Homo sapiens: one gene and its partner. The protein of the gene in region 1 purifies or fractionates together with the protein of each later gene. This does not show direct contact. Each region holds a gene or a part of one and is shown on either strand. Other genes may lie near its edges.

Evidence for each region.
Region 2: the proteins of SAV1 (region 1) and LATS2 purify together in Homo sapiens (affinity purification with western blotting; 4 studies listed by BioGRID, with this or other methods). This does not show direct contact.

What each region holds. Positions count from the first base shown.
Region 1 is NC_000014.9:50,637,306-50,644,333, forward strand, and holds part of SAV1 (protein salvador homolog 1), read right to left. Parts: intron 3,589-7,028; coding exon 3,445-3,588; intron 1-3,444. UniProt on the Homo sapiens protein: Regulator of STK3/MST2 and STK4/MST1 in the Hippo signaling pathway which plays a pivotal role in organ size control and tumor suppression by restricting proliferation and promoting apoptosis.
Region 2 is NC_000013.11:20,981,587-20,988,614, reverse strand, and holds part of LATS2 (serine/threonine-protein kinase LATS2), read left to right. Parts: coding exon 1-734; intron 735-4,808; coding exon 4,809-5,391; intron 5,392-6,966; coding exon 6,967-7,028. UniProt on the Homo sapiens protein: Negative regulator of YAP1 in the Hippo signaling pathway that plays a pivotal role in organ size control and tumor suppression by restricting proliferation and promoting apoptosis.

The sequences.
Region 1 (7,028 bases):
GAGCCTCCATGAAGAAACAGTTATAAGGTATTTCTTAGAACATCCACCATTCTTGTAACTTAAGATTTTATGTGCTCCTTGGAAACAAATTCATAATTCCTAACAAAAAATCTTAATCTCCCAGAGTTAGCTAAGAGGCAATTCAGCAATGTCTACTAAGTCAAGATGGTTACCATTTATACCAGGTGAACTACAACAATGTTAAACTAATCTATCATCTGTGTACTTTCTAGCAAGGAAAACAAAGAACAAAAATAAGATGGTAAATATTATACTTATTTTTAAGACACGAATATCATTCTGTATAAGTATTCAAGTTTTGTCTAAAGGAAGAAAAAATCTTCAAACAATTTTGTCAGTTTTTTTTTTTTTTTTTTTTTTTTTAAGAGATGAAGATCTCCTATGTCTCCCAGGCTGAAGTGCAGTGGCTAATCACAAGCACAATGCCACTACTGATCGGCACAGTAGTATTAACCTGCTCCCTTTCCAACCTGGGCCAGTTCGCCCCTCCTTAGGCAACCTGGTGGTCCCTGCTCCTGGGAGGTCACCATACTGATGCCAAAGAGTACAGACATCCGACTGGCATAGTGCATCACAGCCCAGAACTCCTAAGCTCTAACAATCCTGACTCTGCCTCTCAAGTAGCTTGGATTACAGGTGCACCACCATGCCTGGCCAAGTTTCTGACTTGCCAATCAGCATTCAGCATCAAGAGTACGATTATGGGTAGAAGCAACAAAATCAGATTAGAGAAAATCCTTCTGGGGGAAGAAAGTGCACTCCAAGAAGGGCACAGATGTGAAAAAACTGCAAAGCATGGAATGGAAATCCTATTCCAAATTCTTTCCTCTGTTGCTTCTACATAGTTACTACCCTTCTGCCTATAATCACCTAAGTGTTCCTTCTTTTTCTGAAAAGTATAAACTCCCATTCTTTCCTTCTTAACTAGCCAAGAAATTTGCTTCCACAAGTTTAACTTTTAGTCATTTATACTGTATATACACAGGTAAATCATTCCGAAAATTGGGTGTAAAACACTCCAGTAGTCCATGCTTCTAGCATCTCTTTCACTCTGTTTTTCCTAGGGCAGTATTCTATTCAAATACTACTTATAAATAAGCCATATATACAAATGCCAGTTGCTATAATGCTACCAAAAATAACCTGTCCACACTGCATGCTGACTTCAAGATCAACAGTGCTGCTATCCTCAGCTCCAGGTATCACCATGTAGCCTAAGTCCCCTGCACCCACCCGCCATAACACTGTGTCCACTCCTCCCTCTTTTTCACCTGTATCCAGAGCAGGGTCAATGGTGACACTGCAGGACTGCCAAGCCACTGGAATAAAAAATACCCCTGCCACACACTGCTGAGGACTAGTGTTTTGGTGTGTGTGTGAGAAATAACAGAAAGTAAATATGTTCTTGACAATGTTTTTGCTGTCAAAGATTAAATTTTATTTTATTATATTTTATTTTGAGATGGAGTCTCGCTCTGTCACCCAGGCTGGAGTGCAATGGCGCAATCTTGGCTCACTGCAACCTCCGCCTCCCGGGTTCAAATGATTCTCCTGCCTCAGCCTCCCGAGTAGCTGGGACTACAGGCGCGTGCCACCATACCCAGCTAATTTTTTGTATTTTTAGTAGATACAGAGTTTCACTGTGTTAGCCAGGATGGTCTCGATCTCTCGACCTTGTGATCCACTCGCCTCAGCCTCCCAAAGGGCTGGGATTACAGGCATGAGCCGCCGCACCCGGCCTAACTTTTAAAATTTTATCCTATAGTTCAGCTTGAGTACAGTTATACCAAGCATTATAGACTTTTGTGAGCAGACACAGGAACATAACTTTACAAAAATTAAATACAAATTTAAAACACAGTCTGTTTCTAAATCAAGTTTTAGAAGTATATGCAAAAATTGTGTTGGTAAATTACTGTGAGAGATAGGATTAAAGAATTTCAGGATTAAAGAATTTCAGATTCTCAATTGTCTGAAAAACAAAAGGAAGAAACATGCAAATTTTTTTTGCAAAAATGTCTCTTTTTGTTGTGATAATTGATTCTCATTATCTAATTCATAGATAACCACTCACCCTTTGTTGATAGAATATTAACCATTTCCATCCTCTTCAGCAACATTAATTAGAATCAACTAGAAAGCAACAGGCTTCCAGACCTCTTGTTTAAGTTTTTAAGCAGTAAAGAAGTATAGTACTTGCTCCCTTTTTGTCAGTCTGGCCCATTTTGGAAGAATTACAACCTATTTGCTAGTTTCCTTGAGTTTTATAGTTAGCTCACAGAACCACAGAATTCAAAAAGACTATAATCTTCAGGAATCTGTTTCTTTCTGTAAGAAACCAGGAATTCCATTTAAGTACTATCTCTTCCCCCAAAAAGGAAAGATTATGCTATTTCTTATTAAACATGACTATAGAGTAGAAATAACATACAACAGAAAGAATAACTCTCCTCAACCATATCCACCCCCAGAAATACTAAGGTTAACAGTTAGGCACATATTCTTCCAGATTTAAGGAAAATAAAAACGCATACAGATATTATGTACTATTTAGAATCAGCATACAAACATACAGCTGTAGGTCAGGTGGTATCAAGGGACAAAGAAAAGAGGAAAATAGGAAAGAAAATGCCATCTGCTATCATTCCTTTTTCTGGCACTAGTAGGGGGGCAGTCAGGGTCTCTCATGCTCTGTCACCCAGGCTGGAGTGCAGTGGCACAAGCATAGCTCACTGCGGCCTCAAACTCCTGGGCTCAAGCAGTCCTCCCACCTTAGCCTCCCAAGTAGCTGAGATCACAGGCATACACCACAGCATGCTGCTAATTTTTAAATTTTTTATAGAGACAGAGTCCTGCTATGTTGCTCAGGCTGAACTTGAACTCCTCAGATCAAGCTATCCTCCCACCTCAGCCTCCCAAGTACTTGGGACTACAGACCATGCAAAAAGCCTGGCTAATTTTTAAAATTTTTCTGTGGAAATGGGGCTCTCGTTATGTTGCCTAGACTGGTCTCGAACTCCTGGACTTAAGAGATCCTCCTGCCTCAGCCTCCCGAAGTGCTGGGATTACAGGTGTGAGCCACTGTGCCAAGCCCAGGTCCTTACTTTTATCACAAGTACTGTATCACTTATTTACAAATTAATCTTCTCCTATGAGAATGTAAGTTTCTTACTTGTATCCCTAATAGCAGAGGCCCGCACACAAAGAAATGAAGATTCTATAAATGTCTGAAGAACTAATATTTCTAATTAATGATTTTCACACATTATAAACTATGACATCCTTTATTCAAGTCACGTATTACTTAGAAGCCGAATATTATTAAGAGTAAAATATGGCACACTACTTGGATCGAGCAGCCCAGAGACTCCATTCAGCCCTTCACTCACTCCTCAAACAAATTTGTGTTGTAAATGTACTTACTTCACAGGGGCTCGTGCGTAAACCTGAAGCCAGTCAGGAATTTCTGCAGTATGATATGGATTTGCAGGTACCAGAAGGGACTGATTTCTTTCAGTTTGCTGTGGCTGGTATGTGACAGGAGGTGGTTGATCATACCGAGGTACACTAAGAAGAAAGGAGTGACATTCTTTAGGATAAAGGTCTTAAAATCTAAACAAGAAATTATAAAGAACAAATAATACTTAAGCATTTTTCAGTGTGCCTTCTGTCCAAACTGACTTACACCACCTGAAAGGTAATGTATTTTTAAGATATTTCTTCTGGCTGGTATTTAGTCTTTTCAAAAACAGGTTCAAAGGAGGATATGAAAAAGCTGGAACTAAGTTTTAACCTTTATACAAAGGCTTAAAACTAGAATAGTAAATTCCCACAAGAAATAGTCATCAGCTGTAAATTCATATCAGAAAGGTTGACAGTTTCTAAGAAAGGATGTTTCCTTCCTCCCGTAGGCTGAAAATGGGGGTTAGGATATGTAGTGACGCAGCAGTGAGTATTGTGTTTGAAATATCTCTATCCAATGCAGATAACTTTTCAACTTTTACCAACTCAAGAGAACATATGGGAGTCAGAGTTGATCAGAACCTATTTTAAGTCACAGAGATTAAAAAAAAAAAAGACCATACTTTAGTTCTAATAGCCTGTGTATGCTGTGGGGAGTGGAGATATTATATGGGAAAGTGTAAGGAAAGCACTGAACCACCTGAAGGTTAATAGCTGAACTCGAAGCGGCCAAAAGGGTCTATTTGAGACCAAAAGGGGTCTGCACCTTCAAACATAAAGATTTATGTGTATATGTGGCCAACAAGCATATGAGAAAATGCTCAACATCACTGCTTATTAGAGAAATGCAAATCAAAAGCACAATGAAATAAATACCATTCCACATCAATCAGAATGGCTATTATTAAAAAGTCAAAAAATAACAGATGCTGGTATGGTTGCAAAGAAAAATGAATGCTTATACACTGCTGGTGGGAACATAAATTAGTTCAGTCACAGTGGAAAGCAGTTGGGAGACTTCTCAAAGAACTTAGAACTATCATTCAATCCAGCAGTCCCATTAATGGGACTATTTCTACAAAGGAATAGAAATCATTCTACCATAAAGAAACACGTGTGCACATGTTAATTGCAGCACTATTCACAATAGCAAAGATACGGTATCAACCTAAATGCCCATCAATGGTGGGCTGGATAAAGAAAATGTGGTATGCAGACACCATGGAATACTACCCAGCCATAAAAAAGAACAAGAGCATGTAGTCTGCAGCAACACTGATGGAACTGGAGGCCATTATCCTAAGTGAATTAATGCAGGAAGAGAAAACTAATACCACATGTTGATAGGTAGGAGCTAAACACTGAGTACACATGGACACAAAGAAGGGAACAATAAACATTGAGGCCTACTTGCGGGCAGAGGATGGGAGAAGCATGAGGATTGAAAACTACCTATCAGGGACCGGGCGTGATGGCTCACACCTGAGGTCGGGAGTTCGAGACCAGCCTGGCCAACATGCAGAAACCCCGTCTCTACTAAAAATACAAAACTTAACCAGGCTTCATGATGCATGCCTGTAATCCCAGCTACTTGGAAGGCTGAGGCAGGAGAATTGCTTGAACCTGGGAGGCGAAGGTTGAGGTGAGCTGAGATCGCGCCACTGCACTCCAGCCTTGGCAACAAAAGTGAAACTCCGTCTCAGAAAAAAAAAAAAAAAGAAAAGAAAAACTACCTATCAGACACTATGCTTATTACCCGGGTGATAATCTGTACCAAATCCCCAAGCCATGCAATTTACCCATGTAACAAACCTGCACATGTACCCCTGAACCTAAAATAAAAGTTAGGGAGAAAAAAAAGAAAATGTGGTGTATATATAACAATGGGGAGAAAAAAATGCATGTGTATATTAGAAAAGGTCACTGTTTACTAAACTGGGATTAAAATAAGGTTAGATTATGCTGTGGTTAACAATTTTAAAAGATCAATATGCAAATGGAACTGAATTCTATCTTCAACTCTTCTTTCCTAAATAGGTTCAAAGGAAAATGTTCTTTGATAGTACAACTGGGGGTGAAGAAGAATTGGGACTTTGAAGTCAGGTACGCCTGGATTTGAACCACAGCTTTAACACTTACAAACTATGTAAATGTAAGCAAAACTCCTCCTATCCCTAAGCCTCAGCCTCCATACTTGTAAAAGTGGAATAATAAATTCATACCACAGGTGGTTGTTCTCAGGATTAAATGACCTAATGTAAGTCAAGAATTTTGTATAAGGATTGGCCTAAGATAGACAACCAGACAACTAGTAATACTACATATGTGAGCTTAAGGGCAGCGTTTATTCTCTCTTGTTCAACTTCTACCAAGTTGCTGAGAGAAGTAAATTAACTAATTATGAAATTGCTTTTAAAAAACTATTAAAATTCTGTAATAACATAAGGTTAATGATGATTGTATTAGTCTATTTTCACAATGTTATAAAGAATTACCTGAAACTGGGTAATTTATAAAGAAAAGAGGTTTAATTGACCCACAGTTCCATAATTGGGAGGCCTCAGGAAACTTAAATCATGGCAGAAGATGAAGGGGAAGCAAGGCACATCTTACGTGGTGGCAGGAGAGAGAAAGAAGGGGGAACTGCCACACACTTTTAAACTATCAGATCTCATGAGAACTCACTACCAGAACAACATGGGGGAAATGGCCCCCATGATTCAATCACTTCCCACCAGGTCCCTCCCTTGATACATGGGGATTACGATTTGAGATGAGATTTGGGTGAGGACACAGAGCCAAACCATGTCAACGAACAGAAAAGTAAACTCTCAAATCTGGTTATCTGGACTGCAACAATCATTGCCACCTGATGACCACACCACAGGTTTGATTCTTTCAAAGGACAACAACCTCAGTAGTTGAATAAACACTGATTGGGTGCCACTACATGGAATCATGGGAAAAAACAGATTTTCAAAGTTGAATTAATAAATCCAAATACATAAAATAATTAAAACAACACAATAATGATAAAGCTTAGTTTTCCAGTTGATAATCCTAAAACACATTTTCATAACTATTTTAATGGTTCTAAGAAAATACAAATGTCCACTATAACCAAAAAACTGTATTATGCCAGATGACACTAAGCAACATTTATCAAAATGCAGATGATATTTTACTCATTTTTAATCTTGTGGCTCAGCTTTTGAAGCTCAAATGTGGTTAATTTGAAATATTTGCAACTTCATTACTAAACTAATACTAGCTTTTATGTACTTTGAAATCCAGTGTGTATTTACACTTACAGCACATCTCAATTTATATTAATCACATTCAAGGGCTCAACAGCCACACGTGACAACTGGCTATCAGGCAGCACAGGGCTAAAAGTCTGGCAACAAAGCAGATCTACCCAGCCCAGTATCAATCAAAACAGCACAAAGAATTACTGGCTATATTTATTAAACAGAAATGGGATGTTTTGTTCAGTCCCAATTTTCACTTTCTTGTCTAGTAATAGCAAGAAACAGAACATACAA
Region 2 (7,028 bases), on another chromosome or scaffold:
CGCCGCGCGCGCACGTGGCCTTCCGGCCTGACTGCCCAGTGCCCAGCAGGACCAACTCCTTCAACAGCCACCAGCCGCGGCCCGGTCCGCCTGGCAAGGCCGAGCCCTCCCTGCCCGCCCCCAACACCGTGACGGCTGTCACGGCCGCGCACATCTTGCACCCGGTGAAGAGCGTGCGTGTGCTGAGGCCGGAGCCGCAGACGGCTGTGGGGCCCTCGCACCCCGCCTGGGTGCCCGCGCCTGCCCCGGCCCCCGCCCCCGCCCCCGCCCCGGCTGCGGAGGGCTTGGACGCCAAGGAGGAGCATGCCCTGGCGCTGGGCGGCGCAGGCGCCTTCCCGCTGGACGTGGAGTACGGAGGCCCAGACCGGAGGTGCCCGCCTCCGCCCTACCCGAAGCACCTGCTGCTGCGCAGCAAGTCGGAGCAGTACGACCTGGACAGCCTGTGCGCAGGCATGGAGCAGAGCCTCCGTGCGGGCCCCAACGAGCCCGAGGGCGGCGACAAGAGCCGCAAAAGCGCCAAGGGGGACAAAGGCGGAAAGGATAAAAAGCAGATTCAGACCTCTCCCGTTCCCGTCCGCAAAAACAGCAGAGACGAAGAGAAGAGAGAGTCACGCATCAAGAGCTACTCGCCATACGCCTTTAAGTTCTTCATGGAGCAGCACGTGGAGAATGTCATCAAAACCTACCAGCAGAAGGTTAACCGGAGGCTGCAGCTGGAGCAAGAAATGGCCAAAGTAATTTCACACTTCATTTTTACTATTTGTTCCCGGCTCATCCCTCTACTGGCAATAGGAAGCACGCACAATCCCTTTTCTGTTTCGACTGTATACCCCTTATCATCAAAACGGCTAATGGGCGACAGTCTGGTTCTGGGGCCAACAACTTGGAGAAGTTGCAAATGGTGTGACCTCCCTTTCGCCTTTCCCCTTGACTCTTCTGAAGAATCAGAGATAGCTGTGCATAATGTAGCCAGCGTAATGTAGGTAATCTACAATTTACATTGTAGGTAAATTAGCAAATTAAGTTTTAGGGTATGTCCTCGCTTAACAAAATTCATCATGGATTAATAATAGAACATTTGAATGAGTAGAAACAAAGTTTAAGGTTTTGTAAATTGAGATTGTGGGATTTTGGAAGAAAAATGTATCTAGTAGTGATTCCATTTATTCTTTTAAGTGTTTAGTTAGTAACTAATGATTTAAATATACCTTAGTTGACACTGAAGTGCTGAAGAAGGTAATTATTGATGAAACTATTTAAATTAAAATGTAACAGATTTAAATCACACAAAGCCAATAATTCCAAAGCCTGAAAACCAGATTTGTGTTCTTTTCAGTGTCCCGTATTCACTGATTTTTTTACAGATATACTTTTCATTTGTGTTTTTTTTATTTTTATTTTTTATTTTTTAATTTATTTTTAGACGGAGTCTTGCTCTGTCACCCAGGCTGGAGCGCAATGGCGCGATCTTGGCTCGCTGCAACCTCTGCCTCCTGGGTTCAAGCGATTCTCCTGCCTCAGCTTCCCGAGTAGTTGGGGTTACAGGTGCCTACCACCACGCCTGGCCATTTTTTTGTGTTTTTAGTAGAGACGGGGGTTTCGCCATGTTGGTCAGACTGGTCTCGAACTCTTGACCTCAGGTGATCTGCCCACCTCGGCCTCCCCAAGTGCTGGAATTACACGTGTGAGCCACCACACCCAGCCGTTTATTTTTTATTTATACATAGTATTTGTAGATTTGTGGGGAACATGTGATATTTTGTTACATGCATAGGATATGTAATGATCAAGTCAAGGTATTTAGAGTATCCATTGCCTGGTGTATTTATCATTTCTGTGTTGGAAGCATTTCAAGACCTCTCTTCTAGCTATTTTGAAATATTGAATACATTTTTACTAACCATAGTCATACTAGTTAGAGTTTGTTCCTTCTATCCAGCTGTATGTTTGCACCAATTAACTTCTCATCTCCCCTCAACACACACACACCCTTTCCCACCTCTGGTAACTATCATTCTACTCTCTACCTCTATGAGATCAATTATTTTAGCTCCCACATATCAGTAACAGTGTGTGGTGTTCTAACCGAACTTCTGTTCCTGGCTTATTTCACTTAACATAATGACCTCCAGTTCCATTCATGTTGCTCCAAATGACAGGATTTCATTCTTTTTTATGGCTGAATAGTATCCCATGGTGTACACAGACCACATTTTCTTTATCTGTTCATCAGTTGATGGACACTTCAGTTGATTCCATGTTTTTACTGTTGTGAATAGTGCTGCAATAAACATGGGGTGCAGGTATCCCTTTGATATACTGATTTCCTTTCCTTTAGATAAATACCCAATAATGGGTTTGGTAGATTGTATGGTAGTTCTATTTTTAGTTTCTTTTTTTTCCTTTTTGATAATAGTCGTTCTAACTGGGGAGAGATTATATCTCATTGTGGTTTTCATTTGCATTTCCCTGATGGTTAATGAGCATCTTTCCATGCACCTCTTAGCCATTTGTGTATCTTCTTTTGACAAGTGTCTATTCAGGTCATTAGCTCACTTTTTTTTCTTTTTGAGACAGAGTTTCGCTCTTGTTGCCCAGGCTGGAGTGCAATGGCACGATCTCAGCTCACCACAACCTCCGCCTCCCGGGTTCAAGTGATTCTCCTGCCTCAGCCTACCGAGCAGCTGGGATTACAGGCATGCACCACCACGCCCAGCTAGTTTTATGTTTTTGTAGAGACAGGGTTTCACCATGTTGTTCAGGCTGGTCTCAAACTTCCGACCTCAGATGATCCACCTGTCTCAGCCTCCCAGGGTGCTGGGATTACAGGTGTGAGCCACCGCGCCTGGCCTTATTTTATTTATTTATTTTTTAATTAAGACGGAGTCTTGCTCTATTGCCCAGGCTGGAGTGCAGTGGTGAAATCTCGGCTCACTGCAACCTCTGCCTTCTGGATTCAAGCTATTCTCCTGCCTCAGCCTCCTGAGAGCTGGGACTACAGGTGTGCGACACCATGCTCAGCTAATTTTTGTATGTTTAGTAGAGACGGGGTTTCACCATGTTAGTCAGGCTGGTCTCAAACTCCTGACCTCAAGTAATCCGCCTGCCTCAGCCTCCCAAAGTGCTGGGATTACAGGCGTGAGCCACCATATCTGGCCTTTTGGCTTACTTTTTAATGGGATTATTTGATATTTTTTTTGCTGTTGAGTTGAGTTCCTTGTATATTCTGAATAATAGTCTTTTGTCAGATGAATAGTTTGTGAATATTTTCTCCTGTTCAACACAGGTATCCTCTTTACTCTGTTGTTTCCTTTGCTCTGCAGAAGCTTTTTAGCTTAATATAGTCCCATTTGTCTACTTTGGGGTTTTTTTGCCTGTGCTTTTGAGATTTTAGCCATAAAAATCTTTGCTCAAACCAATGTCCTGGAGTATATTTTCATAGCCTCTGGTCTTATTTCTAGGTCTTTAATCTGTTTTAAGTTGACATTCCTATATGGTGAGAGATTGGGGTCTAGTTTCATTCTTCTGCATATGGATATCTAGTTTTCCCAGCATGTCTCTTTTTCAGTGTACATTCTTGGCACCGTTGTCAAAAATCAGGTGGCTGTAAATACGTGGACTTATTTCTGGGTTCTCTATTCTGTTCCATTGGTCTATGTGTCTGTTTTTATACCAATACCATGCAGTTTCAGTTACTCTAGGCTTGTAACATATTTTGAAGTCAGGTAACAATTTTGTTCTTTTTGCCTAGGATTGCTTTGAGTATTTGGGCTCCCTGTGAATTTTAGTATTGTTTTTTCTAGTAATGTGAAAAATATCATTGGTATTTTGATAGGGATTGCATTTAATTGGTAGATTGATTTGGGTAGTATGGTCATTTTAACAATATTAAATCTTTCTGTCGGTGAACATGGGATCTCTTTTCATTTGTTTGTGTCCTCTTTAGTTTCTTTCTTCAGTGTTTTGTAGTTTTCTTTGTAGAGCTCTTTCACTTTTTGGTTAAATTTACTCCTAGATTTTTTTTATAGCTGTTGTAAATGGCATTCATTATTGGTGTACAGAAATCCAGATATCCATATGCAGAAGAATGAAACTAGACCCTATCTCTCACCATATACAAGTCTATCTAATGTATGCTACTGATTTTTGTATGCTGATTGTTGACTTTTCTTCCTGCTTTCCCATTTTCCCTGAGTTACTGAAAGATTAGATGGCTCTTGGAGTTCTAGGAATGCTGTGGTCCCCTTTTCCACAGATTTGTGTTAATAGAAGTTTCCCTTAGTTTTTAGAGCCAAAAGTATCCTAGAGAAAGAACTTTCTTTTTTATCTTAACTTTTCATTCCATATTCATGTCTATATATGGATATAAAAAAACAAAACTGGCCGGGCACAGTGGCTCAAGCCTGTAATCCCTGCACTTTGGGAGGCCAAGGTGGGCAGATCACCTGAGGTCAGGAGTTCAAGACCAGCCTGGCCAACATGATGAAACGCTGTTTCTACTAAAAATACAAAAATTAGCCAGGTGTCATGGTGGCGGGCACATGTAGTCCCAGCTACTCGGGAGGCTGAGACAGCAGAATCGCTGGAACCCAGGAGGCGGAGGCTGCAGTGAGCTGAGATTGTGCCACTGCACTCCAGCCTAGGCGACAGAGCGAGACTCTGTAGTATATGAGACCCATTCTTCTCTGTTCTCCTTTCTGTAAAATGAGCTAGGTTCCTCTCAGTTCCAGGGCATCCCCATCCCAGTCATTTGTTATCATGGGACTTCTCTAATGTGATTCTTCCTCCTTCCTTTTCCTTCTACACAGGCTGGACTCTGTGAAGCTGAGCAGGAGCAGATGCGGAAGATCCTCTACCAGAAAGAGTCTAATTACAACAGGTTAAAGAGGGCCAAGATGGACAAGTCTATGTTTGTCAAGATCAAAACCCTGGGGATCGGTGCCTTTGGAGAAGTGTGCCTTGCTTGTAAGGTGGACACTCACGCCCTGTACGCCATGAAGACCCTAAGGAAAAAGGATGTCCTGAACCGGAATCAGGTGGCCCACGTCAAGGCCGAGAGGGACATCCTGGCCGAGGCAGACAATGAGTGGGTGGTCAAACTCTACTACTCCTTCCAAGACAAAGACAGCCTGTACTTTGTGATGGACTACATCCCTGGTGGGGACATGATGAGCCTGCTGATCCGGATGGAGGTCTTCCCTGAGCACCTGGCCCGGTTCTACATCGCAGAGCTGACTTTGGCCATTGAGAGTGTCCACAAGATGGGCTTCATCCACCGAGACATCAAGCCTGATAACATTTTGATAGATCTGGATGGTCACATTAAACTCACAGATTTCGGCCTCTGCACTGGGTTCAGGTGGACTCACAATTCCAAATATTACCAGAAAGGTATTGTCTGAAGTGTGCCACATGCACTTTCTATGTGTAGATGTCACTAACCCCATTGCAAGCAACTAAATTTCCCATCCTAGTGGCTCCTAATCATTTTGAAATTTTTATCTGTCACTCCATTATTTTATAAATTGGTGTGACATCCTTCCCTTCCAAAAGGAATAGTGTGATATGCATTTTTTTTTAAGGTAGTGGATTTCAGGTTTACTTTTTTTTTTTTTTTTTTTTGAGACAGAGTTTCGCTCTTGTTGCCCAGGCTGGAGTGCAATGGCGTGATCTCGGCTCACTGCAACCTCTGCCTCCTGGGTTCAAGTGATTCTCCTGCCTCCAGCCTCCCGAGTAGCCGGGATTACAGTCACGCACCACCACCTCTGGCTAATTTTGTATTTTTAGTAGAGACGGGGTTTCTCCGTGTTGGTCAGGCTGGTCTCAAACTCCCAACCTCAGGTGATCCGCCTGCCTCCGCCTCCCAAAGTGCTGGGATTACAGGTGTGAGCCACCGTGCCTGGCCTACTATATTTTTAAGACAGTAGGCTACAAGGTGTCACGGGGCCTTTGTGGGGAACCATCACCTGCCTCATTAAAGCAAGCCTTAAAAAATAAAAGATTTGGCTGGGCATGGTGGCTCACGCCTGTAATCCTAGCACTTTGAAAGCCCAAGGTGGGCGGATCACCTGGGGTCAGGAGTTCGAGACCAGCCTGACCAACGTGGAGAAACCCCGTCTCTACTAAAAATAACAAAATTAGCCGGGCGTGGTGATGCATGCCAGTAATCCCAGCTACTGGGAGGCTGAGGCATGAGAATCGCTTGAACCCGGGAAGCAGAGGTTGCGGTGAGCTGAGATCGCGCCATTGCGCCCCAGCCTGGGCAACAAGAGCGAAACTCTGTCTCAAATAAAATAAAATAAATAAAAGAGTCACAGCCTCCCAAGGAGCCCTCTCTTATAGCCAACCTGCATCTATGTAGTGTATCATTGAACTCCATTTCCTATAGTTCTGCCATTTGGAAAAGCCAAAAACAGCTGATTATTATCTTCTTTATGGCTGAGATTCTTGAAGTAGTTATTTTAATATCATCACTTAGTCTTTTTTCTCTAACTCAAAACTAACTCTAAATCATTTAATTCATTCTCATTTTCTGGCATTGAAGTAACCTTTGTTCATGTTGTTTAAATCCTCCTAAGTTTTCCATGCTCATCTTAAAACATGTGTCAGGCAGTTGTTACCTTTTGATTATGGCCTAAGCGCTAGGAGTGCTGTCCCCGCAGTTCTTCCAGCCTCTCCTGCCTGCAGTGCCTTCCTGCCAGCTCAGCACGGTGCATGGTGTCCTGTGATTCTTCACCGTCATTTCTACCTTGGTGCTAGCGCCAACCTCACCACGTGTGTCTCCAAACTAGGAACAGCAGGCTGCCCCTATGGAGCAGCTCAGCGGGGATTCTCTGTCCTGATATGTCAGGAGCTGATTGGAATGACTTTGCTGTTTTAAGCTGTGGATCTGTTGAGTTATTGAAGAGTGAAAATTCACTTTATATTTTGTTCTTTTCTTTCACTATCCCTGATTCCTGGGTGAAGGGAGCCATGTCAGACAGGACAGCATGGAGCCCAGCGACCTCTGGGATGATGTGTCTAACTGT